Linked DNA regions of Homo sapiens: all the other regions are linked to region 4. Evidence: fine-mapped expression QTL. A gene starts in region 4. Each other region holds a variant in brackets. All regions are shown on one strand. Distances are from middle to middle.

Evidence for each region. PIP is the estimated chance that this variant, and not a neighbour inherited with it, causes the effect.
Region 1: its variant is the best candidate, but not a certain one, in a credible set for the expression of AK8 in nucleus accumbens (GTEx, PIP 0.67).
Region 2: its variant is the best candidate, but not a certain one, in a credible set for the expression of AK8 in cerebellum (GTEx, PIP 0.51).
Region 3: its variant is the best candidate, but not a certain one, in a credible set for the expression of AK8 in nasal epithelium (TOPMed, PIP 0.53).

Annotation. Positions count from the first base shown.
Region 1 is chr9:132,848,872-132,856,603 of GRCh38, forward strand. It overlaps AK8 (adenylate kinase 8), which reads right to left. Exons shown (of 13, transcript NM_152572.3): 5 at 5,986-6,054. LOC124902335 (U6 spliceosomal RNA) reads left to right here and starts at 4,947; the gene lies at 4,947-5,054. RefSeq lists a silencer at 5,643-5,834 and enhancers at 6,891-7,392, 7,393-7,732. The variant A/G (reference allele first, on the strand shown) is at 3,151.
Region 2 is chr9:132,822,707-132,830,438 of GRCh38, forward strand. AK8 (adenylate kinase 8) reads right to left here. Exons shown (of 13, transcript NM_152572.3): 6 at 5,939-6,020; 7 at 5,307-5,378; 8 at 4,148-4,348; 9 at 499-630. Among named protein-coding and RNA genes, the nearest start is that of AK8, 52 kb to the right of the region's middle. The variant T/C (reference allele first, on the strand shown) is at 3,190.
Region 3 is chr9:132,840,056-132,847,787 of GRCh38, forward strand. The region is part of intron 5 of AK8 (adenylate kinase 8); the gene reads right to left. Among named protein-coding and RNA genes, the nearest start is that of AK8, 34 kb to the right of the region's middle. The variant A/G (reference allele first, on the strand shown) is at 5,025.
Region 4 is chr9:132,875,285-132,883,016 of GRCh38, forward strand. It overlaps AK8 (adenylate kinase 8), which reads right to left and starts at 3,000. Exons shown (of 13, transcript NM_152572.3): 1 at 2,888-3,000. The coding sequence starts at 2,971. It overlaps SPACA9 (sperm acrosome associated 9), which reads left to right and starts at 3,614. Exons shown (of 4, transcript NM_001316897.2): 1 at 3,614-3,730.

The sequences.
Region 1 (7,732 bases), 26 kb before region 4:
GGGAAGCTGGCCTTTCTTCTAACACTCCTGTTTGCTTTTTTTTTTTTTTTTTTTTGACACGGAGTCTCACTCTGTCGCCCAGGCTGGAGTGCAGTGGCGTGATCTCGGCTCACTGCAACCTCTGCCTCTTGGGTTCAAGCGATTCTCCTACCTCAGCCTCCTGAGTAGCTGGGACTACAGGCGCGTGCCACCACGCCCGGCTAATTTTTTGTATTTTTAGTAGAGACGAGGTTTCACCATGTTAGCCAGGATGGTCTCAATCTTTGGATCTCATGATCCGCCTGTCTCAGCCTCCCAAAGTGCTGGGATTACAGGTGTGAGCCACTACGCCCAGCCGGAAGTTTGCTTTTTATTGAGAGCTCAAGAGAAAGGGCAGAAATGTTTTCATGATCAATGTGAAAGTGTTACTTAGAACAGGGGTTGGCAAGCTACAGCCCGCGGGCCAAATCTGGCCTGCTGCCTGCTTCTAAGATAAAAGTCTTTCTAGAGCACAGCCGTGCCCTTTTGTGTCTGTGTTGTGTACGGCTGCCTTTGTATTACATCAGAGCTGAGTCGTTGTGACAGAAGCCATATAGCCTGCAAAGCCTCAACGAGTGTCTCTCCATCCTTTTCAGAAAACATGTGTCCACCCCCGATTTAGAATAGCCTCTGGGCTCTGGATATCTGCCCACACCTGGGCAGAAGACCATCCACTCACAGTGAACAATTTGAGACAATTCAGATGTAAACACACTGTTCAGAGCCAGTGTTGCAGCCCGGCCGGCAGGGTGTTTGTGATGGAGATCCCATGGCTGAGGGCCATGCAGAACAAGCTCGTGAGAACTGCTACTCCCTCGCCAGCATGCTGGAAAGATTCCTGCTTCAGGTTTGGGGCTTCCCAATCAATATATTTTTGAGACAGGGTCTTGCTCTGTCACTCAGGCTGGAGTGCCGTGGTGCGTGTCGGCTCACTGCAACCTCCTCCTCCAGGTTCAAGCGATTCTCCTGCCTCAGCCTCCCGAGTAGCTGCGATTACAGGTGCACGCCACCATGCCCAGCAAATTTTTTGTATGTTTAGTAGAGACAGGGTTTCACCATGTTGGCCAGGCTGGTCTTGAACTCCTGGACTTAAGTGATCTTCCTGCCTCAGCCTCCCAAAGTGCTGGGATTACAGGCATTAGCCACTGCATTCAACCCTAGTACATTTTTTTTTTTTTTTTTGAGACAGGGTCTCACTCTGTCACCCAGGCTGGAGTGCAGTGGCGTGATGTCGGCTCACTGCAACTTCCACCTCCTGGGTTCAAGCCATTCCCCTGCCTCAGCCTACCGAGTAGCTGGGATTACAGGCACCCACCACCATGCCCAGCTAATTTTTTTTTTTTTTTTTGAGACAGAGTCTTGCTCTGTAGCCCAGGCTGGAGTGCAATGGCATGTGTACGGCTGCCTTTGTATTACATCAGAGCTGAGTCGTTGCGATAGAAGCCTCCTGCCTCAGCCTCCCAAAGTGCTGGGATTACAGGCGTGAGCCACTGCATTCAACCCTAATACTTTTTTTTTTTTTTTTGAGACAGGGTCTCACTCTGTCACCCAGGCTGGAGTGCAGTGGCGTGATGTTGGCTCACTGCAACCTCTGCCTACTGGGTTCAAGTGATTGTCCCTGCCTCAGCCTCCCAAGTAGCTGGGATTACAGGCACCCACCACCATGCCCAGCTAATTTTTATATTTTTAGTAAAGACAGGGTTTTGCCATGTTGGCCAGGCTGGTCTCGAAATCCTGACCTCAGGTGATCCGCCCGCCTCGCCTTCCCAAAATACTGGGATTACAGGCGTGGGCCACCACGCCCGGCCAATTTTTTGTATTTTTAGTAGAGACGGGGTTTTGCCATGTTGGCCAGGCTAGTCTAGAACTCCTGGACTCAAGCAATCCTCCTGCCTTGGCCTCCCAAAGTGCTGGGATTACAGGTGTGAGCCACCATGCCCAGCCTGGCCCTAATACATTTTCAAGTGAGAGACAGATGGAGAAAGAGAGAGAATCTGTAGGTGCATTTAAAAAAAAAAAAAAAAAAGACACAAGTTCTGATTCTGGGAGACAGGAAATGTGCGCCACCCGCCTTGTCAACCCCACTGAAAGTAGCTGTAATACATTCATAAAACACACAGGGCAGCTATTCGAGGACTCAGAAAGTTACCCAGTAGTAGGCAAGTTGGGGGAAAAGACTAGAATCCAAAATACCACCAAACCAGTATCTCCTGGCCTGGCCTTAAGGCAACCTGAAGGCTGAAAGTGGGAAGCAGATGGGAGAAGAGCGAGCTAGGAGGGGAGATACCTCTGTGGGGTTTTTCTTTTCTCTGTTTTCTCACACTCCTGCCTCCAGGCAGTCCTGCGGTGACTGTGGTGGCACTGCTGTGTCAAAGGGGCCTGCAGGTGCCTGAAACACTGAAAGAGGGGACCCTTCTCCAGTCCCAAGAGAACAGGGCAAAGCCCTGTCAATCCTTCCTTTCTCTGTCCTCCCACCACTTGACCCTGGTCATGGGTGCAGTCCCAGGAAGTGAGTGGCAGAGCAGGATAAATAACCTCAGTTTTCTGGCCAAAATACCAAAAAGAGGAGCACCAGGGAACTAGGAGTTATCAGGAGATGACAGAGAGGGGAGCTCAGGGAAGTAACTAAACACAGTGTTTGATGAGATCAAAGGCTCACCCCCAAGCTGTGCACGTGTGGGCCTGACCCTAAACGGCATTTCAGAGACACTGAGACATGAACTGTGGCCAGCTCACTGCCAAGTCCCCAGGTGCCCCTGGGTGATGTGCACATAGCACAGAGCTGCATGGTCGGTCACTGCACGGCACTGCAAAGTTGCTGAACACAGGACTGACATGGAAACCACACTCTGAGAAGCCTGGCTGGAACATGCAACCTGAACCCAACTGAATCAGTCATCTGCTAAGACAAAAATAATGACATTTGCCATAGGATTTAAACAAGACCCAGAGCCTCATAACAATATTTAAAATGTCCAGGATACAAAATTACTTAGCGCAGGGAGAACCAGGAACATCTCTACTCACATGAGAGCAGATACAGATGTCACCACCACGTAACTCAGATACTGGAATTAGCGGATGAAAACTCGAAAGCGGCTATTACAAGAAACTTCCAACTGGTAAAAACAC[A/G]GAAAGATACAGTCTCAGCAAAGACACAGAAGGCAGAAAGAACCGATGCGATAAAAAACTCACAGGACAAGCTCAATAGTGGAATAAAAAAACAAGGGAAGATTCAGTGACCCTGACAATAGTTCAATACAAATTATCACATGTGACTGATAGAGAGTAAAAACAATAGGGGCCAGGCATGGTGGCTCACGCCTGTAATCTCAGCACTTTGGGAGGCCAAGGCGGGAGGATTACTTGAAGTCAGGAATTCCAGTCCAGCCTGGCCAACATGGTGAAACCCTGACTCTATTAAAAATACAAAAATTGGGCCGGGCGCGGTGGCTCATGCTAGTAATCCCGGCACTTTGGAAGGTCGAGGCGGGTGGATCATGAGGTCAGGAGATTGAGACCATCCTGGCTAACACAGTGAAACCTCGTCTCTACTAAAAAATACAAAAAATTAGCCGGGTGTGGTGGCACGTGCCTGTAATCCCAGCTACTCGGGAGGATGAGGCAGGAGAATAGCTTGAACCTGGGAAGCGGAGGTTGCAGTGAGCTGAGATCGCACCACTGCACTCCAGCCTGGGTGACAGAGCAAGACTCCATCTCAAAAAAAAAAAAAAATTAGGCACGGTGGTGTATGCCTGTAACTCCAGCTAATGGGGAGGCTGAGGCATGTGAATTGCTTGAACTTGGGAGGCAGAGGTTGCAGTGAGCCGAGATCATGCCACTGCACTCTGGCCTGGGCAACAGAGTGAGATTAGGTCTCAAAAAAAAAAAAAAAAAAAAAAAAAAGAAAGAAAGAAAAAATGATAAGAAAAAAAAAGACTGGAGCCTCAGGGACCTGTGGGACAACAGCAAAAGGGTGAATGCTTTGTGTTATTGGAGTTGCAGAAGGAGAGGAGAGAGAGTAGGGTGCAGGAAGTTACGTGAAGAAATAAAGGCTAAAAACTTTGCAAGTTTGGAGGAAAATACAAACCTATAAATTCAGGAGCTCAGCAAACACCAAAAAGAATAAGCCCAAAGAAATTCATCCCAGACATGTCATAATTATACTAGTGAAACCTAAAAATAGGCCGGGCACGGTAGCTCACACCTGTAATCCCAGCACTTTGGGAGGCCAAGGCGGGTGGATCACCCGAGGTCAGGAGTTCAAGATCAGCCTGGCCAACAAGGGGGAAACCCTATCTCTACTAAAAATACAAAAATAAGCCAGGCATGGTGACGCATGCCTGTAATCCCAGCTACTCAGGAGGCTGAGGCAGGAGAATCGCTCAAACCTGGGAGGTGGAGGTTGCAGTGAGCCGAGATTATGCCGCTGCACTCCTACCTGGGCGACAGAATGAGACTCCGCCTCAAAAAAAAAAAAAAAGAAAAGAAAAGGAAAAAAGAAAACTAAAAACAAAGAAAAAATCTTGAAAGTAGTCAGAGAAAAAAATGATGCATTATTTATAAAAGAATTTGAATGACTGTGGATTTTTCATAGAAACCACAGTGGTCAGAAGTAAGTGGAGGCTGGGTGTGGCGGCTCATGCCTGTAATCTCAACACATTGGGAGGCCAAGGCAGGAGGACTGCTTGAGACCAGAAGTTGGAGACCAGCCTGAGAAATAGAGGGAGATCCAGTCTACAAAAAATTAGCTGGGCATGGTGGCACACACCTGCAGTTCCAGCTACTGGGGAGGTTGAGGCGAGAGGATCTCTTGAGCCCAGAAGGTCAAGGTTGCAGTGAGCAGTGATCGCCACTGCACTCCAGCCTGGGCAACAGAGCAAGACTCTGCCTCAAAAAAAAAAAAAAAAAAAAAAAAAGTAAACAGAGTGCTAGCTTTGGCAAGCGCATATACTAAAATTAGAACAATACAGAGAATATTAGCATGGCCCCTTAAAAATTACAAAAAAAGAAAAAACTGTAAGTGAAACATTTGTAAAATGCTGAAAGAAAAAAACTGTTAACCTAGGATTCTAAATTCAGAAAAAAATATAGGAGCCTAGGAGTTTGATAACCAGCCTGGGCAACATAGTGAAACTCTATCTCTACAAAAAGTACAAAAATTAGCTGGGTGTGGTGATGCATGCCTGTAGTCCCAGCTACTCAGGAGGCTGAGACAGGAGGATCACTTGAGCCTGGGAAGTTGAGGCTAAGTGAGCTGTGATCATGCCACTGGGGTCCAGCCTCGGTGACAGAGCAAGACCCTGTCTCAAACGTATATATACACATACATACATATATACATAAAATAAAATAAAAAGAGAAAAGTAATGACATGACCCAATAGGGTTCCTGTGAGGACACATGAATCGGTGTGCAAAGCCCTCCTGTGGCACCCATCAGTGCCCAGTAGACAGGTGCTATGCTGCTGTCCTCCTGAGCCCTCCCCTGCCCTCTCCACCCTCCTTGTGCCCCAGGAGGCCGGCCTCAGTGGACTGCTCACCTGGACTCCTGCCCTTTGACTTCACTGGGTCTGGCAGGAGATCAAAGGATAGGAGGCGAGAGTCTGGGGTACCCCTAATTCTGCCTCCTGCCGATGCCAGTCCCTGGCGCCTCACCATCACTTGTCGGTTGCCTTACCCTCCCATGCTTCTGCGATTGTCCTGTCATTAAATGCTTTCCTGTGACCCCTCTGGATGGGCCAGCTATTTCCTACGGGAACCCTGACCGATACAACGAATTCCACACTGTTCCTTTTCCTTTGACAAAAGCAAAATCCATGTCTGTAGACTGACCTTCACGGAGTTCCCGTTTGCCTGCCTTACCTTCTCTTATGCCTCTGGTCATCTCTGGTCTTGGAGATGAACACACGCCCTTCACCCTCCCCTTTATCTTGGCACTGAAACCCCTAGCTCACTGGAGTCTTACCTGCTTGATGCAATCCTCTTCAGCCAGGCGTTCCTGAATCAGCTGGACGAGCAGCGCGCTGGGAACTGTCTGAAGGAAAAAGGACACACAGAATGATGGCCCAAACCTGCTTCCTGCAGCTCAGGACACAGACCAGCACACACCCTTCACCAACGCCCTGGCCTCTGGAAAGCACCGACCACCATCGGGCCCCGCCCTTCCTCCACCCGCTGCACCCTTTCCTTGAACTCTCTTCTCCCCCCAGCATCTTTGAGGGCCTCCCTCACACATGTACTCACCTTATCCTGTGCCCAAGCCCCAACATGCCCTCGCCCACCTCCACCTGAATAACTCCAGGGCTCCCTCAGAGCCTCAGCCCCAAGTGCCAGCCTGCAGGAAGCCCTGCCGGATCCTCCCAGGCCAGGCTGGTGCTACTTCCCGTGCTCCATCATCCTGGATGGAGAACTCTGTCACTGCACTAACCACCGCACACGCTAATGGACTGCCCACGTGGCTGTGTCCCCAGGAAGTTGTAAAGCTCTTCAAGGAAAGGGACAGTGTCCTACTGACTCTGGACTCCAGACAGTGGCGGGTGGGAGGGGATTGGCTCCAAGACTCAGCAGAGGCGAGTGTGTCCATCTCTTCCCAAGTCCACAGTCAGTGACCTCATGTTGGTAACAAAATTGGCCACGGTGGGAGTGTCTACACCACAGAAATGATAAAGGCTACAATAAGGACTCCCCACCCTGCCCCCAGTGCTGGTTGTTGAATATTGACCAGCAGACCAAATGGTATCAAGGATATAGGAAGCCCTGTCGACCATAATGAAACTTCAAATTCCTTGATGCATTCAACAAGCAGCAATCATGACGGCTAGCATTTGTTGAGCACGTGCTATGTGCCAGGCACTGGGCCAAGCATTCCATTCTTTGCTTTTTGTAACAACTCTGTGCCATCTACACTCCACTTACAGTAACACGGGCCCCCAAAGAGGAATCCCAAAGAGGAGTCGCCCTCTTGCCCCCTTCTGCCTGTATGGTCTGGGTGTGCTCAACTCTATCCTCAGATCCAGAGGAGGGCCCTGACTGGTCTAAGCCAATCCGCATACCCCACTCCTGACCACTGTGATTGATTCAGAGTGTTGGCCCTTTTCATAGAGGAGGAAGCTGAGCCTGGGAGAGGTGAAGCTGCTTCCCCAGGGTACTCCGCACTCTCCCTTCTCTGCAAAGGACTGGGGAGGAAGCAACTCTTCTCAGGGGAGTCGCTGAGGCCTGGCCTGTGCCTTTCCTTGTAGTGCACAACAGGGGCTAAAAATCTCCTCTACACCCACCCACATTTCTGAAAAAGGACATGGGAAGTAGAAATACATTCCAATCAGAAAGTTCCTTGCTGGGGGCGGGGGCCTCCTGGCACAGCCTTTCTTATGCAGAGCAGAGACTCGGACTTGGCATCAGGGCTCACCTCCCACCTCTGCCCAGGGCAGGCTCTCTGCTCCTGGCGGCTGCGATACAGCCAGCTGGGCGACCCTGGGCAAAGCCTTGACCTCTTTAGGCCTCACACACCTAACCAGTAGAAATCAGTAATGAGACTGCAAATGTGGCTTTTATTTTAATTTTCCATACACTCCACTTACAGTAACATGGGCTCCCAAAGTTCCTTTGAGGAGTCACCCTCCTGCCCTTCTGCCTGTATGGTCTGGGTGCGCTCAAGTCCATCCTCAGATCCAGAGGAGGGCCCTGACTTGTCCAAGCCAATCTGCACACCCCAC
Region 2 (7,732 bases), 53 kb before region 4:
GTAAAATATTTATTGAAACTGTGCGGAGTGAGAAGTCTTCCTCTGGTTCAGAAATTGTCTGCCTGTAAACACACTGACCTGGGTTGGGGGCACCAAACGAGACTGGAGAAAATAAATAAACAGCACATTCCTATTACGCAGGAGCCAAGGCTTCAGGGGAGATGGCAGGGGTGAGATGGGAGCCACCCCTGGTGTACAGCACAGACAAACCCCCCGCTCCAAAGGATATAAAAAACGATGACTGAAAAATGTTCTGTCTCTTTGGGCTGTGGACATGTTTTTAGTGGTTAATGTTTTTATGGCAATATTCCTCGGGAGGAAGAAAATTCCTGCAAAGATGGACTAACAGAAAATGGTTAAGAACAAAGAGCCAGAAAGAGAAGTGATACTGACCCTTCCCCCCCAACACCACCCCCCATAAAATGAGAGCTGGGGAGGAGGGGCAGGAGGCAGGGAAAGGCTCTCGAAGCTGGGCAGCCCAGCACCTGGGGCACTCACCATTGACAAGCCTGTATTTCTGGGCCAGGAGGGCGGCCTGCAGACTTTTCCCACTGCCCACAGGCCCGAGCAGCAGCACCCTCGGGGTGAACGGGGCATTAGTACGATGGTTGCTTTGGACATAGGTCAGAGCTGGAAAGAGAGGATATGAGGATAATAAACCCAGGTCCTAGAGAACAGGAAACCCGCTTGCAGCCCCTCTGCTTTGACTCTTTTAACGGCAGTAACTCTTTTTCTCTTTCACAGCACCATGGAAGCCCTCTGTGCATCTGGCGAAGAGGCAGGGAAAAGAATTACGTGGCAGGCCTGGGCACCAAGGCAGGGAGCGAGGAGTGAAGTCCACAGAAGCCACCCTGGAGCGCCGCCCTGGATTCCTCTCAACACAGGCGTCTAAACACGTGCAGGTGTCTGCATTTCCTTCCAGGCTGAACTAGGGCTGGCTGTGTTGCAGTTGGGAGACTGGTCCCAGGACATGATAGCACTCTCTATAGGGCTGGTGGCTTTTCCTACTGAATCGGGCTGAGCCTCCCAACCGGAAGCCCCGGAACTAGGCTGGTCTCCTAGAAGTGCACGCTGGCTTTCTGCTAGGTGCACCTGAATGTCAGACACAGGCTTTGATAAACGCATCCAGCCACATGGGGGCCCAGTGCCCAGGGACTTCTAAAGGACTCGAATTGGAGAGTAGTTTGTGCAGCTGCACTCTGGTGACACCAACTTTGTTGCGACTCTCCAAAGAGGTAGTGATCAAAGAGGTCACAGGAGTGGCCAGATGTAGCTGCATGGCCCTGGCCTGTGGTGTGCCCCTGGCATTTGGTGAACAAAGAAGTGAGGAGATGGGGTGAGTGTCTCCAACAATGAGGCCACCTGCACCATGGGGGGCACCGGATGCCAAGAAGCCACAGGGCAAAGCTACTGAACATCAAACCAGGTCACCTCCCGCTGGAGCTCAGAAACAGGGAGCTGTGAGAAAAGGCTAATGAGGCTGTAAAGGCAGCATTTCGGGCACCTGAGGCAGGAGAGATGCCCACAGATGAGGCACGGACCTGTGCCAGCCCCCACCCCAGCGTTCAAAACAGGGCATCCTTCCCCAGGGAGACCTTCCCCCTCCTGCCAAGGCCCCAGACTGTCCTGTGCAAACTCAGCCAGGGGTGGCCCCGTTACACCTTCCTGCCAGTCTGCCTTTACCAATGTGCCTTGCGGTGGGTGCCGTGCTGGGTGAGGGGCCAGGCCATCGTGCCTCCTTCAGGAACATGCCACCCAGGAACCAGGCAGGTTCCTCATCCTCAGCACTACTGACATCTGGGGCCAGAAGATTCTTTGTTGCGGGGCTATTCTGGGCACTGTAGGATGTTGAGAAGCATCCCTGGCCTCTACCCACTAGGTGCCTGCAGCACAACCGCAAGGTATGACAACCAAAAAACCTTTACAGACATTGCCAAATATCCCCGGGGTTGCGGTGGGGGCAAAACTGCCCCCGATTGTGAACCGCTGGGATATGTTCATTGTGAAAATCCTGAACTCTCAAATCTTTGCTGGACTTTTAAATTGGAAGGGTCATTAGAGATGCACAGTCCCCTCTTTTTAGAAGGCAGAGATGAGTTAGAATGGACTTTTTTCCAGGTTGTGATCAGCATCATCAATGGCATGTACTAATTGCTACGACAAATACTCTATAGGCACCATCTCTTTTCTTTGGCCCAACAATCCCATGAGGGTTGCGTTATTCATGTCCCATTTTACAGATGAGCCAATTAGGCTGAGACTTGGCAGAGCTGGGGCAACTCTCCCAAACCACCTGCCATGGGTACCATTCCTCCACTGAGAGAAGCCCAAAGGAAGCTACTCAGGCGAGGCTCTCTTTATTCTCAGACCTTCCATAATCCCGTGCATCTGAAAAGCACAAATACTACAGGCAAAGCAGCCTGCTTACAAATGATGCTTAATTTACAGTAAATAACTAAGTTAATTAGAAGTAATGATCCCCCAGACAGTCTCAACATCTAATTATTCTTTTTAAAAATGTGTGGTTGCTGGATGCACTGCAGAGAGATTAGAAAAACAACACAGAGAGAATTCTGCATTCCAATTTTCAATTTATCTCTCTGCATTATTAATTAATAATAATTAATATTCAGACACTCACATTTTTATTTACAATTCCAGGCATGAATTCTTTATGAACGATCATATGAACTTTTAAATTTAATTAAGTAATTTGGAAGTAATTAATGTGTAAATTCAGAATCATGGCATAAGATAAATGTTGTGGTTGTTTATCTTAAGAGTGCAGTGTTTGTTACTAATGACCCTTCCGAGATGCAAAATCACTGGAAAATTATAAGCCATCATAAGCCTGGCATTTCTTCTTTAAGTAGCGACATTTTCTACTAACCCACCCGCTGGCTGATTGCTCCCTTCAGAGGGCGAGGCTGTTCAATCCACGCCGGCAAACACCGCATCTCCGAGCTCAGTGTAGCAATGAGGTTTAAGCACCGAGTCTACCAGCAGGAGAAGGTGCTGGGAAAGTCAGCAGGGAAGGGCTTGAGGGAGCTCAAAACCACTTCCCCGGCAAAACAGGACTTTTCTTGGAGAGTTTTGAGAGAATATATGAAAAAAAGGACTTTGTAAACTGTCAAGTGTCTTAAATATCTGTGATGTTCCCATCGTAAACGCTTCATTTACCCAACACTG[T/C]GTGGAAGGGTAATTTTGAGACGACTGGATTTTGAGATACTGCATTTTGAGATGACTGAAGCTCAGCAAGACTTTTGAAAAGGATAATACAGCTGTTTGGGGATAGAATTATTCTACCTTGCCCTTGCCTTTTTGGGCAGGGTGTTGAACAATGATAGGAGCTATGACGACTGATGTTTATTGAGGCTTTTCTCTGTGCCAGAACTGGGCTTGTGGCTGTGGACACGTGATTTGGAGAATCCCATTTAATCCTCACCTACGCCTGGGAGGAGGGCACAAGTTTTGTTCCTATTTTAGCGATGCCAAAACTAGGGCTCCGAGGAGTTAGGAGAAGTGCCAGAGGCTGCACAGCTGGGCTGCGTCGGGGCTGAGATTTGAACAGGTTGCTCAGCTCAGCCATCCCCGCACCTCGCACAGGCTGCCCGCAGTGGCTCCCGAGCTGCTGTGAACATTGGCCATTGCTGTGGACAGCAACGCAGTGCCAGGCGCGGGGCCATGTATCTCCATCCTAAATGAAGCATACCACCTGTGCTGTGTGTGTGTGTTTTATTGTGTTGTGTGTGGTGGTGGTGGTTTTGTTTTTGTCTTAATCTTTATATATTTTTTCTTTCCTCTCCCTCAAGGTCAGGCTCAAACTTCTTGCTACCATGTCCCTCCCACCCCATCCCTTGCCTCTCCTCCTCCCGACCCCACGACCACCAAATCTGCTGTGGGCCAGAGATGTGACCACATCTGAGTGTGGGACATTAGCCCAGGGTCTCCAAGTGGGGTACCCCCAGGGGCTCTGCACACATGCATTTCTGGGCAGGGAACCCGGGTCATCTATGTCTTGACTTCCAGGGTCCCAGGCATGTCCCAGACACTGGCCACTACCAGAATAAGGGACAAAGTGGTAGAAGGCACAGCGAGCCCCGCCCTTGGCCGTCTGTCCAGGGTGGGGCTGCCTGCTTGTGTTTACCCTGGTAGAAGACGTCCACACATGGCTGGTCAGCACTGATGACTTTGAGGATTTTGGGGTAGGAGGGAATGACCCTGACGATGTTCCTATGATACTCCAGCAGTTTCTGAGCCGTCTCCAGCTCTGAGATGTCCTCTGGCACCATGAGACGGTTCTGGATTTCAGATTCGGGTGGCCAGTCAAAGGTGGTGTGATAAATCTCTACAAGGAGAGAGGTGCACAGTTAGAAATGGCCATGCAGGGGCCCTGTGGGCGCTGCTGTGCCTGGCTGGGGTGCTTGCTGTCCTGGAGGCCAGGCCCTACACATTCCTGGGGTGTGGCTGACCACGGCAGGACACCGTTGCTCAACACCAGCACTTCCAGCTACTCTGAGCCTGCTCTTAACTATTATTCTTGTTACAATACAAGAACAGGACCCAGGGCAAGGGCTGCCGTGAACTTCTGAGCACTTACTCTGTGCCAGCCACTCTGATAGGCACCTGCAGACTCCCATTTCATCTTCACAGCCATCCCATCACCCATTAGGTTGGTATTTTCATCCTCAAGTACAGATAAGAAAACTGAGTCTCAGGTATCCCATGTCTACAGCCAGAAAGGGACAGAGTTAGGGATCCACAAACCCAGCTCTATCTGCCACCACAGCGTGAGGCCCGGAAGATCAAGGGCAGTCCCGTCTCCCCCCACCCTCCCGCCAGCCCCTTGCTGAACTGCCTGGTCTTCAAGGCCCAGTTCAAGGGCCCCGTCCCCTGCAACACCTGCCAATTCTCCCAGGTAATGCTCATGCCTCTCTCTCCTGTATAAATACCAAAGAATAAGGGGTGTCAAGGGGGCACATAATTTGTCCCAGGGAGAGGCAGACATGTCCCCTGGCTCCTGTGTGGGCCCCAAGCCCAGGTGCCTGGCATGACCCCCCACACTCTATTCTGGTTCTGCCACAAGAAAGTCTCCTCCTTTAGCCTAAACAGGCCTCCATTTCCTCATCTACCAGAATGTACCCTTGCCAGTGTCTTCCAGCTCAGAGCCCAGCCTGTGGCAGCCTTCCTCGTGTCCCTCTGTGGGTGCCCAGAGCAGAATGCGAGGTCAGGAAATGGTAGACGGGCTGTCATCACCATGGACTCTGAAACCCCATGGGGCTGGGTGGGGGTGGCCGTAGCCATACCTCCAGTTTGAGGGTCGATTCTCTTCCCCAAGTTTCTCTCGATCAGGACCGTGTCTGGAGCACTCAGCACAACTGGGCAGAGAAGAAAAGGAGCAAAACCAGGCATGTCGGGCAGCGGGTGCCACACATTTGAATATCACAGACCAATACTTGCTTTACGTTTTTTGCTTTTCTGTATAATGACATTAAAACAACAATCATCTCCCATCCCCGTGAATTCCTAAGAGAAAGGTCTTCTCGCACCCAAACACAAAGAGTGTAACGTTGGGACAGAGCACGGCCCATGACGGAAAGTTCTGCCTGTTAACAATTTCCCTCGTCACAGATAACGCCACAATGGGCATCTCTGTGCGCACTAAATGCTTGCACAGCATTCTATGCTATGCATAGAATATGCATTTCCTTCCTGAGACAAGGAATCGCCAGGCTGAAAACGAAACCCCACTTTTCTTAAGAACCAGCCCTGAATATATTTAGCTCTGTGAAAAATTCAGTTGTGCTGTCCTCTTCCTTGCTGGGTCTCAGACGGTGCCTGGGCTGAGGTCAGGAGCAGGCAGCATGAGCGGGGCGCTCACTGGCCACCCCTTGGGGCTGCAGCTCTGGCAGGTGGGGGACCCTTGGGAGCTACTCACTGACGTGTCTGGGTGTGATCCCCAGGGTCTGGATCCTCAGAGCCTGCTCACGCGTCTCAGGGATGCCATCCAGAATCCAGCCCTAGACAGAAGATTCAGAGAGGTGCTCATCTGTTTTGAGTTTTAGATTTTTTGGAATTATTTTAAAAGGAATATAATAGCTTTATAGAAAGACTAGAACTTTTAAGACAAAAAAAATGTTTCTGATAGCTACCTCACCCTTCTTTAAAAACTACTTTGTAATATATTATTATATTCCCTTCCGAATCATATCTTGGTGATTATAATCATAACATATATATTTTACATCTTGATTTTTTTTTTTTTTTGAGATGGAGTTTCACTCTCGTTGCCCAATCTGGAGTGCAATGGCACAATCTCGGCACACTGCAACCTCCGCCTCCTGGGTTCAAGCAATTCTCCTGCCTCAGCCTCCCAAGTAGCTGGGATTATAAGCATGTGCCACCACACCCGGCTAATTTTTTGTATTTTTAGTAGAAACAGAGTTTCACCATGTTAGCCAGGCTGGTCTCAAACTCTTGACCTCAGGTGATCTGCCCACCTTGGCCTCCCAAAGTGCTGGGATTACAGGCGTGAGCAACTGTGCCTGGCCTACATCTTGATTTTTTTCTACCACACAATAGCGACCACAAGCATCTCTTCATATCTGCACAGCTCCTCATTGTCCACATTATCAACGGCTGTGCAATGTCCCACCAAGAGAATGTACACAGCCACTTAACTATGTCCACAAATGAACATTTCAACTGCGGGCAGTGTTCACTATCATAGATAATACCTCGATGAACATCTTTGTGCATCTAGCGCTTTCCACATTTTGGATAATTTCCTAAAGACAGTTTCTGAGAGATTCCTGAGACCAGGGTGAAAACAAAACCCCACTTTTGTTTTCATTTTCTGCCCCATATATCTGCAGGAACACCCCATTTTTCTTAAAAAAAAAAACCCTGGACGATGATTCCGGTTTCTACTCTGCGGCTAACTTGTTACAGGATTGAAATTCCTCACCCATCAGCCCCCTCTTGGTACAGCTAGGGAACTGGTTTAGAGGTTTATTTTTACTATTTATTTATAGAGATAGAGTCTTGCTACGTTGCCTAGGCTGGTCTTGAACTCCTGGGCTCGAGCAATCCTCCTGCCTCAGCCTCCCTAGTGCTGGGATTACTGGCGTGAGCCACTGTGCCTGGCCTTTACTAACTCTTTAAATCCAATTGTGAAAGTAATATACAATCATTGTACACTGTGTGGAAAATATTGAAAAGCTGAAATAATAATAAGAGTCACTGGTAACACCTCAGACCCAAACAAGCCACTGTCAACATTCTGGTATATCTCCTTCCAAGCAGCAAGTGCAGATACCTTTTTTCCCGGTGGCTGGGGGTTGTGGGGAGGGGAACCACACTGTACACACTGTTTGGTAATCTGTTCTTTTCTAGCAAAAACATTTCATGAACGTTTTCCCATGTCACAAAGTGCTCCTTGCATAGAAGTTTTCACAGCTGCCTGGTATTGTATGAATTGACCTGATGTTAACTGATCCCATATTGTTGCTCATATTGCTCAGTTTGACTCCAGTTTTCCACCATTATAAACAATGTTGTATATGCATCTCGATGCCTATCAAACATCCTCAGATAAATTTCTAAAAGTTGATACCTTCTTTTACGACTTTTGATACATTTTGCCACATCGCTCTACAAAATGGCCCACTAGTTTATGAATCCAATGGCAAAGCATGTTTCCTTGCATCTCTGCCAATGTTGGGCATTATCT
Region 3 (7,732 bases), 35 kb before region 4:
GATCCACCCGCCTTGGCCTTCCACAGTGCTAGGATTACAGGTGTGAGCCACTGCGCCCGGCCCCAGTCACCTCTTAAAGGTAGTACTATGGCTCTCAATGCTGCCACATTGGAGATTAAAGTTCAACATGAGTTTTGGAGAGGACAAACATTCAAACCAAAGCAAGCATCAAGAAAGCAAATTCCTGCTGCAGTCACACTGAAGGTCCCTTCCCTCACAGCCCAGCTCCATCTCCAAAGGAGTGAACCGAGCATCTCACGTGCTTGGCTTCTTGCATTACGCTCGCGTTTGGCAACATTTTGAACCATTCCTAACCTCCAGAGTGGTGGGACTCAATCCCAAGTGGACACTCACACACACACACACACACACACACACACACACACACACACAAGGCAAGTGAACAGGCATGAGGAAGGCAGTCTGCAGCTGGCTCGGAAATTTCACTGATTTTTTTCCTCAGGCACTACACTGAAAAGACTGCTCACTCTCATTCATCCAGGTATGGGGATATAATAGAACTCACTTGAGTGGTGGTTTCAAAAGTGCACCACAGGCCAGGCACAGTGGCTCATGCCTGTAATCCCAGGAATCTGGGAGGCTGAGGCAGGTGGATCACCTGAAGTCAGGAGATCGAGACCAGCCTGGCTAACATGGTGAAATCCTGTCTCTACTAAAAATACAAAAATTAGTCAGTTGTGGTGGCACACGCCTGCAATCCCAGCTACTTGGGAGGCTGAGGTGGGAGAATCACTTGAACCCAGGAGGCGGAGGTTGCAGTGAGCCGAGATCGCGCCAAAAAAAAAGTACACCATGATGTTGCTGGTAGATCATAAACCCACCCAGAAAGTGTCCAGGACTGTTTTCTAACACAAAGCCCAGGTATGAAGAAGTAGCAGACTTCTACTCATAAGGGATCCTCAAATGGCCTTCACCCAAGTCATCCAGCATGTAAAAAGCATCAACTCTAAGTGGACCTCCGGGCTGGGCACAGTGCTAAGTGCTATGCTTGGATCGTCACATTTTAATCAGACAGTGAGACAGCTGTTACTTCAGAGCATGCGCCGCAGCACCTAAGGCCATGCTGCCTGCCTGTGAATTACAGGGCGCTCTACATAGAAAAGCACTGCAGCCCGAGCAGGCTGTCCACACCAGTCCCTGTCTGAGTGTCCCTCGCTGCTGTCTGCCAGCCCAGATATTCAAGGGTCAGCTCAGGTCAGCAGATGTGAACCCGAGCCACGTGTGGAGCCCATAAGAATCACATTCCCGGTGCGTGAAGGCCTCTGCCTTTTGATGAATAATAAAATTCTCCGCACATGACGAGCCGTCATAATTGGGCACAAGTCTTTCCTTTGCCCCCTGCAGCGGCGTGGGGGTAGCATCCATACATGAAAACATTTCTTTTTTTCTTTGCCAGATATTTTCCAGTCTGTGATATTCCAAATGTCTGGTGCTGGTGACATAAAAATGCCTTTGTCAGAAGGCCTGGCACAAACCTGCCGAGTCCAGCTGAAGCCTGACCTGCCAGTCAGGTAGCCAGGAGCCTCTGCGTGGTGGCCTGTAAAATGCCACACTGACCTGGCCTGTGGGACGTCAACCAAATTCCTTCCTCCATCTGGGCCTCAGTTTCCCTTTTCATAAGAGGTTTTTGTGGGATGATTTCTGTAGATGGCTTTTTAAAAGACATTGATAAGACAAACTGGGATTCATCCACCAGGTGTGATCACTTTTATGTTACACATTTATTTAATGCTTTAAAATCAAGCACCCTGGCGCTTGATTCTTGTTACAGTTGATTAGAGGAATAGAGGAGGAGGAGACAGAAAATCTCCTGGCATAGGAGATCAGATTGGAAGACTGGTTCTCAAAAACCTGAACCCGGGGTCCCAAGGGGGGACCTCCACCCTTAGGGTGCAGTGCTTGAACTTTCTCAAGGTGTAGGAGTCCAAGGCCAAATGGGAAACTTGAAAGCACTAATGATGGGAATAATTTTAGAATACAAGGAAGAAGTCGCTAAACAGATCCAAAATTCACAGAAAACAAAGCTAGCACACTGGCCAAAACAATCTCCCCAAAGAAGCCTGAAGACAAGTATGTTCCTAGTGTTGAAACCATTATTAGGGCATCCGGATGTGACTGGATAGGGCTGCTGGATTTTAAACACCTTTGCCTCCTTGGGCCATGTGCATGTTGGGATAAGATTTCACTGCCACGGTGGTACAGAACTGGGGAATTATCCAAATGGCATTGATTGATTCATTATTGACTGGTTCATTCATTCATTCATTCATTCATTCATTCTATAAATATTTACCCAGCATGGAGTCTCTGCCAGGTATCACATGAAAGATCTTGCATTCCTACTCCTAACTATGACAGTGCAGAGTTGGAGAGCAGAATGCTGTGAGCATGTGTAACAGGCAGGTCGGCCTCATCTGGGGCTGGGCAAGGCCAGGGGAGGCCTCCCTGAAGAAGTGACTTGAAGCTGAGGCTGAGGAATGAGAGCAGTTTTCTAGCTAAGGGGTGGGGTTAAGAGCACTGTGTATTCCTTTTCCACTGCTGCATAACAATCTTAGTGACTGTAGACAATACAGTTATTATCACATGGTTTTCAAGGAGTCTGAGCACAGCTCAGCTGGGTCCTCTGCTCAGTCTCAAAGGCTGCAGTCAAGGTGTTGACCAGGCTGTGTTCCCATCTGGAGGCTTGACTGAGGGAGAACCCTCTTCCCAGCTCATCTGGATTGTTGACAGAATCCATTTCCTTGCTGCCACATGACTGAGGGCTCCGGTTTCTCGCTTGCTAGGGGCTGGAGGCCCCTGCAGTTCCTAGAGACCAGCCATGTGGGCTTCTCCAACATAGCTGCATACTTCATCATGCCAGCAAGGAGGATCTCTCTCTGGTCTGCTAAGGCACATTCTTACATAACATAATGTAGCACAGGAGTGACATCCCCTCACCTTTGCCACATTCAGCTGGTCCTGCCCCCACTCAAGGGGAGGGGATTACATAGGCATGGACACAAGGGGGTGGGAAATCACTGAGAGTTGCTTAGTGATATAGTTTGGATATGTGTCCCCACCCAAATCTCACATTAAAATGTAATCCCCATTGCTAGAGGTGGAGCCTGGTGGGAGGTGTTTGGATCATGGGGGCGGGTCCCTCATGGTTTGGTGCTGTCTTCACAATAGTGAGTTTTCAAGAGATCTGGTTAAAAGTGTGTGGCGCCTCCCCCTCCCACTGTCTCTCTCTTGCTCCTGCTCTGGCCACATGATGTGCCTGCTCCCCCTTCACCTTCTGCCGTGATGGTAAACTTCCTAAGGCCTTCCCAGAAGCAGAGCAGATGCCAGCACCATGCTTCTCTTATAGCCTGCGGAACCATGAGCCAATTAAACCTCATTTCTTTATAAATTACTCAGTCTCAGGTATTTCTTTATGCATTGCAAGAATGGCCTAATGCAATTAGGGTCTGGCAGCTGCCCACAAAGGCCTGAGCAGGGTGGGTGCAGGTTGACCTGGAGAAAGGTGGCGGGTACTGAGTGGGTAGATGAGAGAAGTCCAGGGATGAAGCTGAACCGCAGGCAGGCCCAGGACACACAGGGCTCCTGGAAGCAGTGGAGGGTCACAACCACATTTATTTTAAAATAACAAATGTTTCTCTATGTTTAAAGTCATCCTCAGAAGGGTGCACTTTCAAGAAAGTGTGAACATCAGTTGCCTCCAGGGAAGGAAGCTGGGTGGCTAAGGAACAGGAGTGAGGGGGGACTTTGGTGCCTTTGGAACCATAGGAATGAATATATCATGGTAATGAAATAAATTCATTCATTCTTTAAAAAGCCATCCTTCCAGCAGCAATGTGAAGAAAGAGTTGGGAAGAAACCAGGGTAGCTGTGGGGAGATGGATCAGGTTCCAAATAAAGGAAAGGGATTCTTAGCAATTTAAATAAAATGGAGCACAAATGGTGACTATGGTCAAGGTAAAATTTAGAATCTCTTTGGTACTGAGCCTTTCCCCCCAAGTTTCCAGAACTTACTGTCTTATGTCTTGGCTTTTCTTTGCCCTACAGGGGTAGTCTGAGGATTCGGGCACATTCTCTTGATTGTCCCTAACAATGGCTAATGGGTATCCAACAGGTAGAGCCAACTCCTTTTGATCGTTCCAATACAGAGTGCTAATTTTTCTTTCTCTAATGCATTTGATGGTCACTTCAAAAAAAAATTCTTCAAAGAGACTGCATTAGACCAAAAAAAAAAAAAAAAAAAGAAAAAAGAAAAAGAAACGACCCCCCTGCATTAACTACAGAATCCTGATGGGTTATGATTGCGTTATTTTTCCCTGAACACTATTCCCTGCATTCTTTCTGTGCTCTAAATTACCAATTCTAGTCCCTGTGTAGCTAAATAATAATAATTACCATATAAATGAATATGCATATGTGTCATTTTTCTCCCTAAAAGCAAGAAAGCCTGTTTATTTTGGATGAGGGTTTGTTTTGTTTTTGAACAACCAAAGCACATAATTAGAAGTCTAACCTCTTACTCTTGAAATCCTGTCTCCAGCGGGAAGAGATGAAAAGGCAATGGATGCCCCTTAAAGGTTAGAAGAAAGTTTAAAACAAATTGAAGGAGATATTTCTTTACTCTGCAGGTAACAACAGCGTGGACATGATCAGAATCACAGAACTATAAGACTAGAAGGGATTTCCATGCTCAAGACTAGAAGGGATTTCCATGCTCAAGTCCAACCCCATGGTTTTATAGATGGAAAAACTGAGGCCTAAGGAAGTGAAGCTCTCACCAGAGTAACACGCTCTGTGCCTTCCTGAGATGCAACCTTTGAAACAAGAACAGTGGCCAATAGTACAACACTGTGTTTGCATCTCAGTTCTGGGATTTAATTGTGGGATCTTCAGCAAGATACACAACCTCTTCAAGGCCTGGATTCTGCATCTGTGAAATAGGGTAGACAGCAGTGCCACCTCCGCAAGGTTGCTGTAAGGACTCCACAGCACACGGTCCTGCTGCC[A/G]ATGCTACACTCCCAATCAAGGGGAGTCACCCAGAATGTAATTACAGCCTCTTGCATAGTGCAAGGTGCACCTGCAATGTCATGTAGCAGATAACATGCCAGACCAGGCGCGTAGACTACAGCTACCACCATCATCAAAATAATCATAATAATAACACACATTATAAATACTCAGTCAATATATTATTTATAATACAATGTAATCACATATAGTGTAATGTAACTAATAACGATGTCAATTATAATTGAGATTTTAATTTCTAACAATAGACTTCATCATCATTTTTATGATGGTGACTTGGGATGCATGGTCCTGTACTCTGTCCACACTGCAGGTGCACTATGCAAAGAGGTTATGCAGACCAAGCTTTTAAATAAGCTCAGGAAGAATTCACAGAAGTTAAATGCATATTTGAAAGACTATTCTAGGCCGGGTGCAGTGGCTCATGCCTGTAATCCCAGCACTTTGGGAGGCCCAGGCGAGGGGATCACTTGGAAGTCAGGAGTTTGAGACCAGCCTGGCCCACATGGTCTCTACTAAAAATATAAAAATTAGCCGGGCATGGTGGCATGTGCCTGTAATCCCAGCTACTCAGGAGGCTGAGGCAGGAGAATCGCCTGAACCTAGGAGGCGGAGGTTGCAGTGAGCAGAGATCGCGCCACTGCACTCCAGCCTGGGCAAGAACGAAACTCCATCTCAAAAAAAAAAAAAAAAAATGACTATTCTAGATCACTGAGGGCATGTTTGGGATATCCAGCTGCAAACACAGAGAGAATCACCATATTTTCCCCAGAAACTATCACTCAGTGAGGTAGAAATTTTTTAAAAATCACGGAAACAAATCTGTCCAGGCAGCTGGATCCTGTGTGAAAACTGTGCAGCCTTGTTAGATTCTGGAGTGGGGAAAGAAGGGCAGTGCGGCTTCAAGGGCGTGTATATAGCCAGTGGGACACACAGACGATCACTGGCAGCCCACCCTGAGGCCCTGCATCTCTGGATTCTAGATTTCCACCTAGAATCCAGAATGCTTACCCACCAGAAACATTTTCATTGGAATGCTGTAACTTGTAAAAATTACTTACACGAAATAGTACTGTTTCAAATGTTTTGAGGTTGGAAAGGAGAGAGACTTTGAGGGTTGCTCAGTGGTATCCAGACACCCACCCTGGGCCTTCTGCAATGGATGTGTGGGGTGGATGGGGCAGAGGGGCCCACAGATGCCTTGGCCCCATGCCAAGCCTCTCTTCCAGCTATGAAGTTCAGATCTGCCTCTAACTGACGTGACTCCTTTGCTTATTTATCTGGTTTATTGTCTGTCTCTCCATGACTAGAACTTCTGTTCCTTGAGAGCAAGACGTTTAACTCTCTTGTTCACTGCTTTGGTCCCTGTGCTTAGCAAAGTGATTTGTTGCATGAGAGAATAGATGAATGAATGAATGAATGAATGAATGAATGAATGAATGAATGAATGAGTACTTTTAGGAAACACTGACTGGGGAGCCGGGTAGGCCAACAAACCATGACAAGGCTTTTGGTCACGACTCTAGTGGAGGAACATATCAGGTGGCATGGGGACACGTTGGGGGCCTGTGAATGGCACAAAACACGACAGGGAGTAGATAGGCTTTGCCCAGCCTTTGAGCTTCTGTCCTGGGCTGCATAGCACAGCCCTGGAGCCCCTGGGTCAGAGCGCTGGCCCTGTGCACCATGTGCCTGGTCTACCCTGGCCAGCCCTGCCGCTTCCCCCGGTGTGGCTCTGGGCGTGCCTCAGGCCCTGCAGCTACAACATGGGCACAATAATAGTAACACTGGCCATGTAGGGTCCCGTGAAGCTGGAGAAGCTGCTGGGCGTAGTGCCTGATGCCAGGCTCAGACGCATGCTCCATTCAGGTCTCTGGCTTCTCCCGGGCCGAGATAGAGAGCTGGAGCAGAGGCTCTGGGCCTGCCTGCTCTCCTGCCTGCCTGGATCCCAGAGACTTCTGCCTTCCAGTGGTCAGCAGGCCAGCTCCCGGCTTCTGCTGCACTAAGGCAGCTGGTTGAAGCAAACACTCTTGACCAGGAGAGCGGGCCGGGGGAAGAGCGGCCCAGACACAGCAGTTCCTGCTCAAGTTCCTGGGTCACAGGTGGTTTGGGGATCATAGCATCTTCAAAGGAAATCTGAAAAGGGAAAGGCAGGTCTTCTACCACCAGGCGTGGGGAAGTCCTGCTGCCTTTGCTGACTAAGACAGACCGTGGCGCCATCTCCACCGGGCCTTTCGTTTGGCAGGGGCAGTGATGGTGGCTCATGAGTATGCCACATTTTTTAGGTGCGTGTTATTCCTGAGGATATGAACTACATAGTTTCTCCCTTCCTGTGTGCTTAGAACGAATGCTCATCACACTGACAGTCCTGGTTCCAGGAACTCTTGGCATATTGAATTTGAAACACTGCCTGATGGGCAAGACCATATCCAGCTGTGCTTTCACAGACAGCCCCCACCCCTGCTGAGGGGGTCCAGTCCTGGGCAACTAAGGTACAATTAAGCCAAAGGAGTACCACCCCCCTATATTTGACCAAATTTGATGAGTAGCTATCATGATGAAAAAGAGAAAACAGCTTAGCTTTAAAGATCAAAGAGAGCCAGGCATGGTGGCTCATGCCTATAACCCCAGCACTTCGGGAGGCCAAGACATGTGGATCACTTAAGCACAGGAGTTTGAGACCAGC
Region 4 (7,732 bases):
TCCACTGCACCCCACCAAACATGCCTTCAACCTGGGACCCAGCCACCGCCCCAGCTGGCATCTGCTTGGGTCCCCATGAGCAGAGGCATGAGGGGGGCCACGTGGTGCTGCTGCGGAGGCACCTATGGGGAGGCAGAAGTGGAGGAGTCTCGCCCCTGATTCAGAGCAGGCAGTCCAGGGCTCTCTCCCCTGGGGCCCTTTGAGCTTCCCAGACCAGCCTTCTCCAAGTTCTCAAGCATCACCATTCCCCTCAGAGCCTTAGCAGATGCTGTTCCCTCAGCTTGGAAGCTTCTGCCTTGTCCTCATCCTGGCTAACTTCTGCTCAGTCTCAGATCTCAATGGGAACATACCTTCCTGAGTATGTGCACTACGTAAATATGTCAGATGCTCCTGCACCTGCCTGCGGGCATCGCCCTGTTCCACGCCTCACCCTGTCCCTACTCACCAGGCCACCATCCCCCCGGCAGGCCATGGGTTCTGTGGGCCTCCTTGTCTGCCTAGAGCCCTTGGCACCCCAATACCTGGCAGTCATAGCAGATGCCCAGCGCAGATGTTTGCTGGGGAACATGACCGTCACCACTAACTGTGTCTCTCCAGAATGGAACAGAATGTTACCAGCCAGATTTCTAAATAGTCCTGGGATATTCTGGCCATTTCATCCAATCAGGCAAGCATATCAAGAGAAAGCAGCTTCTGGGGTTGCAGAACCCTAGGCAGAGAAATGAGGAGGAGCTCATAGCAGCTGTGCTGCTGCAATAAGGGGTATCCTTGAGCCCCAGGGACAAGGAGGGAGGGGCTGTAGCCCTCTTGGAGTGAAGGGAGTGTGGGGCAGGGAAAGAGCACCGAGCCATGAGAAGTCTTGGTTCCAGCCCCACTGTATCTCATCAGCAAGTCCCTTCCCTTCTCTGGGCCTCAGCTTCTCTGCCTGTTCAGTAGCACAGCTGGAGTGAATTCATGTTTGTATGTCACTGGTGCGATGATGGAATGAGATGATTTTAGATGGTTCACACATAAATATTTTACATTTCATGTTTAAATCATTGTGTATTTAACGTGTATTAGAAATATAAGTACATCAAATCAATAATTTCAAGGATATCACTTAGGATGAGGCAAAAGCGGCTATTTAATTTTTTAAAAGGTGAGTTGATTTAAACAAGTGATTAGTTTAAATGGAGGTGCAGTAGCGGTTATGCAAATCTGTACATGTGATACAACTGCACAGAACTGTATGCACAACAAAAACATCAATGCAGGTAAAAATGGAGGAAATCCAAACAAGGCCTACAGTTCAGGTAATCCTATTGTACCAATGCCAGTTTCCTGGTTTTGACAATGTGCTACAGTTATGTTAGATGTTATCACGGGGGCAATGTGGGAGGGGAGACCAGAAATCCATACTATTTTTTAACTTCCTGTGAATCTAACATTATTTTAAAATCAAAAGTATAAAAAATGGAAATGGTCAAAAACATGGAGGGAATCCACAGATGACTAAGGACTGGAAATACTGGACTGAAAGCTTTCTTGTTGGGAGGCCGAGGCAGAAGGACTGTTTGAGCCCAGGAGTTCAAGACCAGTCCGGGCAACATAGCAAGACCTCGTCTGTACTAAAATTAAAAAAAAAACATTAGCCAGGTATGGTGGCCTGCACCTGTAGTCTCGGCTACTCTGGAGGGACTAAGGCAGAAGGATTGCTTGAGCCCAGGAGTTCAAGGCTGCAGTAAGCCATGATTGTATCACTGCACTCCAGCCTGGGCAGCAGTGCAAGACCCTGTTTCAAAATCAATAAAAGCTTTCCTGGGCAATTCCTCCAACAATCAATGTGGAAAACACACCAGGTTCTCTAGAGCAGACAACAGGGCTCCAGATGATCCCCCATCCTGCCCTGACCTGCTGACTTCTAACCCAGCTAGCTATTTGATTTGTGATTGGCCACTCAAGCAGTTTTAGGAATCTCTTGCTCTCCCTCTATCAGTTAACACTTTCCGAGGGAAATGTGTTTGATGGAGGTGCAGACACGGGTTTCTTCGTCTGGGCTCAGCTGTCTAGTGTGCAGGGCAGAACCTCAAATGACCACAGACACCACTATGCCCTCCATGCCATGCCCCTGGGGATGGGGTGTACCCTGGGAAGCAGACAAATGATCTGAAAACTGAGCTCCAGCTTCCCCTTGCCTCTCAGAACCTTTGAGTGGCTGAGAGTTCTTCCCCTCCAGCTCCTGAAAGCCTTGACCTCCACCACGTGCAAAAGGGAAAACTGGGGCCCTGGCGGGGACGGGGCCTCGCCCAAAGTCACACGGTGAGCTGGGGGCCCAGTCAGGCCTGGAGCCAGAATGAGAGCTTCGGAGCTGCCGGGGACGTCTGGCCCTGAGGAGGAGGGACCAAGGTGGGAGATGCTGCTGTCCCAGAGGCGGCCCTCTCTGAGGATGGAGATGCCAGCTTGAACTCGGACAATGCCCACCTCAGAAACCTGGGCCGAGAGGCTCCCCACAAATTCGACAGATGGTAATTGTCAGCGCCGGGAGAGCCCCTGGGAGACCACCTCTTGCAACCTGGCATTTCACAGGTGGGGAAACCGAGAAAAGGAAAGGACTGGTTCCAGACCATAAGGCCCGCTGGCGGCACAGCCAGGACCAAATCCCGGCTCGAGTGGCCCCCTTCCTCCCCCTGGGTCCGCCTGAGGCAAACCCGGGCAGGACCAGGAGCGTCCCCAGCTCGAGGGCCCCCTCGGGGTCACGGCGACACACGAATCGTACATCCCGAGTTGGGCTGCTTCGTGGGCGCGCGACTCGGCCCCAGCTGCGGGTCCCGGCCGCGCACCCGACGTCGCAGTGGAGGCTCCCGAGCCGCCGCCAGCGTCGCGACGGGCAGGGGTGTCCGGTCACCTGCATCAACTCGAAGATGTGGTTCTCCTCCCCGTACTGGGGCATCTCGGGGGGGATACGGTGCGGGGCGATAGTGGCGTCCATGTAGCCGTCTCGGCTCGCCGCTCCCTAGTAACCGCGTCGCTAGGGCCGCCGCGCCGACTGCGTCATCAGCACGCGCCGCGGCCCCGCCCTGCAGGCTCCGCGCCGGGCCCAGATACCCGATCCTCGGTCGCGCGGGTCGCCCCCGCCCCGACCTCCCCGGCTGACGCGCTCTGCGGCTCGGGCAAGTTCTTTCCCCAACCCCGGCCTCGCTTTTCCCATTTGCGCATCTTAGCGGGGGACACCCTCAGGTGGCTTCCAGCTGGGCCTCCTCGTATCTGAGACCCCCGACGAAACCCAGAAGGGGCAAGTCGGCCCTCCGAGGGGACGGGAGGCAGAACCTGCTTCTGGTTCTGTCAGTGCTCCCCGGCCCGGCTCCCTGTGCCTCAGTTTACCCATCTTTAAAACAGACGCGGGAATAAATGTGGGGGAGGGTGTTTGAAGGGGGAGGGGCGTCCATGAGATGGGCCGGAGGTTCGAGGATCGGGTGGAAATCCTCAGCCCAACTCCTAGAGTCGAGCCCCGGTAGACCCCTCCCAGCTCCCCGGCTCTGGCCAAGCCGCCAAGTGACCCGATTGCTATGGCACCGGCGGTAACAATCACGCCCGCGGCCCCGCCCCTTCTCGCCCGACGTCCCCACCCACCCTCGCCTCCCAAGTCCTGGAACGGGCCTCCCCACCCTCCGGGGCACCGACACTCACGGAGTCACTCCAACTTCTCTGGGTGCTCCGTGGAGCGAAGAGCGCTCTAGGACAAGCAAGGGTAAACAGGGATGAGTGTGGGTGGGCCCACTCGGACCCCACCCCGGCCTCTGGGTCAGAAACTGGAAGCTGGGGTGGAGGATGGAAAGATGGAGGGGTCCGGAGGATGGAGGGGCCTGCACAGCTGTCTCGGGGTGGGGGCGAGGGGAAGGTTCGCGCTGGAGACGGAGCTTTTTAAGTCGTATGAATTCCCAGTGGTACGGGGCAGCTTGATATTTTATTAGTCGCAACACTGAATTGGGATCTCTAGCTCTTGTCTGTTGCCGTTAATCGTAGGAGCTGTAAGAGTTTGTTGAACTCTTTGTGCTCTCGGCAAAATTCTGTTGTCTCTGTACCTTATGGAGAGGGAAAATGGCACAGTCAATGCAGACAGCCCCAGCTTCAAGTTCTGGCTCCGCTTCTTACTGTGTGAGCTTGGCAAACTCTCTGCTTGCTCCGTGCCTCACTTTCCTGCCCTGTGAAGAGGGAACTGCTGAAGGATTTCAGGAGCTAATGTATTGGAGAGTAATTGGCATGCAGTAAGCACACAATATATGGGGCTACTATTAGTAGTAGTATCTCATTTAATCGTTCCAACAATCCTGTGAAATAGGCACCTTCATTCCCATTTTACAGATGAGAAGTTGGAGGATTAGAACAATGAGGAGTGGTTGGCTGGGTAACTTTGGGTGAGTCACTTCCCCTTTCTGGGCTTCTTTTCTCATCAGTTGTTGATCATACAGCCTTAGAACCAGAAGGCCTCTTGAAGAAGAGGCTAATCCAAACTCTCTCATTTGACAGATGGATAAACTGAGGCCCAGAAAAGGGGGAAATCTTGGCTAGGGCCACTGGTTAGATTGGGCAGAGCCAGGGCATGAACTCTGCATCCAGGCTCCAGCTAAAGCCCTTTTCTACCAGCCATCAGCCCAGAGACATGCCCTCCCAACGTAAAAGCCAGCACTGTTGCCTCTTCCCCTCCAAACCGCTTCCTCAAAGTGTGTACACCTTGGTAGGCTTGTCAAACCCAACTGTAAAGATAGCTGGGGAAGAAAAGGAAGCTGCCTCCCCCTGAGCAAAGAACACAACAGCCATGCCTGCCATTTGCACTGGAGAGGTTTGTTTTGCTTCCTGGACATTTCTGAAATGACTTGCCTTTCTCCTCATTTATTTTAAGCCCTAGGCGCTTTTCCTACCATGATTCAATCTTCTTTAGCAGCCTGGAAAAATACAAATCAATTAAAGCCTAAAACCTATGGGTAATCATTTTTTTCCTCCCTCCTCCCCCAGATCGAGAAGTGCCCGTCCCCTGTGCCCTTCATCCACACTAATTTGGCTGCAGTGGCTCTCGTTCAAGGGACGATCACTTCGGATAGCTTATTACAGCTCCTCTCATGACATTCCTGGCGTGCATGTCACAAGTTGCTAGGATCAAGAACAGAGTCAGTTCCTCTCAACCACTACCAACCACAGCTCCCACCATGATGAGGGAAAAGCCAGGCCGAAAGGGCACACGCCCTTTCTCCCTGGAACTCCACCTATGTGCTCTCTCTCACTTTTCTGGAGCTTCACCTTTGAGTCATTTGTAAGCCCTGGGCCAACATTAGGGCAAGGCAAGTGATGCACCCTCAGCACAAAACTTAAGGGAGTGCCGGCAATTCAATCATTGAGGTGGATGTTTTTCACGTTTTAATGCAATATATTTTAAAAATCAAAAATAATGCTGCCTAAAATCCATTTAGAATAACATGTCAAAAATTTAAGTAAAGGTAGGCTCAGTGTTACTGATTTCTCCTTTTGCCTCAGGCCTCAGTATGGCAAGGTGCAGCTATCTTTTTTTTTTTTTTTTTTGAGATGGAGTCTTGCTCTGTCGCCCAGGCTGGAGTGCAGTGGCGCCATCTCGGCTCACTGCAAGCTCCGCCTCCCAGGTTCACGCCATTCTCCTGCCTCAGCCTCCCGAGTAGCTGGGACTACAGGCGCCCGCCACCGTGCCCGGCTAACTTTTTTTGTATTTTTATTACAGACAGGGTTTCACCGTGTTGGCCAGGATGGTCTCAATCTCCTGACTTCGTGATCCACCCACCTCGGCCTCCCAAAGTGCTGGGATTACAGGCGTGAGCTACCGCGCCCAGCCAGCAATCTTTTCTTTACAAATTCTGATGTTGCCAGCTCATGCTTCTAATCCCAGCACATTGGGAGGCTGAGGTGGGAGGATCGCTGGAGCCCAGGAGTTCGAGACCAGCCTGAGCAACATAGGGAGACCCCATCTCTACAAAAAAAAAGAAAAAAAAAAAAGAAAAAAAAGAAGAAAAAAAAAAAAAGAAAAAAGGTAGTCAGGCATGGTGGCACATACCTGAGGTCCCAGCTACTCAAGAGGCTGAGGCGGGAGGATCACTTGAGCCCAGGAGGTCAAGATTGCAGTGAGTCGTGATCACAGCACCACACTCCAGCCTGGGTGAAAGAGCAAGACCCATTCTTTAAAAAACGTTTTTGGGGCTGGGTACAGTGGCTCATGCCTATCATCCCAGCACTTTCGGAGGCTGAGAAAGGGAGATCACTTGAGGCCAGGAGTTCAAGACCAGCCTAGCTGACGTGGTGAAATTCCATCTCTACTAAAAATACAAAAAATAGCCAGGTGTAGTGGCACCCACCTGTAATCCCAGCTACTCAAGATGCTTTTTTTTTTTTTTGAGACAGGGTCTCACTGTGTCACCCAGGTTGGAGTGCAGTACTGCGATCATGGCTCACTGCAGCCTTGACCTCCTGGGTTCAAGCGATCCTCCTGCCTCAGCCTCCCAAAGTGCTGGGATTATAGGCATGAGCCACTGTGCCTGGCCTATTTTCATCTTGATTGCCGAGTTTTTTGGCGCCTCCTTAAGTTTTGCATGGGGGCAAGTGTCTCCCTCACCTCACCCTAGTTGGTCCTGGGTGAGCCGGACACCACGGGAGGCACAACAGGAAACCACTGTGCGTGAGTCAGCATGTCTGCTCCATGTGGCAGGGACCAGCCAAGGATATGGCAGGTGTCAATAAACCATGGACCCCCCATCTCATTCCCCACCTTCAGCTCTCCTTTCCATAGGAGGTTGAGCTGGAAAGAGGCCCCTGCCCTGCCTGCCCTGGCCCAGGCCCACCCCCAGGGCAGCTGCGACTGTCCCTGTGTCTGTTGACAGTCACAGTGCTGTGGCTCTGCTGCAGAAGCATACTCTCTTGTCTTTCCAGGAGACTCACTCAGTGGCTCTTAAGGTGGCTCCTCTAAGGCAGCCTTGCTGGCTTTTGGCTCCAGGGATAGAGGCTCCATGGCTGGGCTCCATCTTGCTAAAGGGCCTCTTCCCCAGCCTCCTCCAAGTGCTCTGATGTACCACCCCCATCATCTCGCGGAGGCCATCTCCTGGTCTGTTCTTGTGTTTCCTTTCATTCCTCTGATGCCATCTCTTCTTGCATCAACTGGGATGCTCCCCCTACCCTGCCTCTTTTTTTTTTTTTTTTTTGAGTCAGGGTCTCCCTGTGTCCTAGGCTGGAGTGCAGTACTGCGATCATGGCTCACTGGAGCCTTGACCTCCTGGGTTCAAACTGGACCCCCAGCTCCAGCCCTGCTCTGGACACAGCAGAAAGAAATATTTCCCAGCCCCGTCTTGTTATTCCTATCCACCTGGGACCTGCTTGGAAGCTTGGAATGTGCCTTCCCTGCCCCAGTCCATGCTAAATGTTCTGGCCCCTTCCATCTCCAACATCTCCCTTGGACTGGACCTGAGCTCAGCACAGCCTTCTCTGACCCCTGCTCATGTGGTGACACGTTCGAGCCTGGCCTTTGTTCTGGAGGCAGTGGAGGGGCAGCCGAGTGTGGCAGCACTGACGATGCTGGTTAGACGTAAGGAAGCCTAGGACCCAGGGTGTCTTGGGCACAAATTTGCTGTGACACCCTGGGCAAAACCTTTCCCTCTGAGCCTCACTTTCCCCATAGCAGCTCAAGGGAGCTGGTTTTCTCAGTCCCTTCCAGCTCTAACATGAATAGAAATCTGTGGTC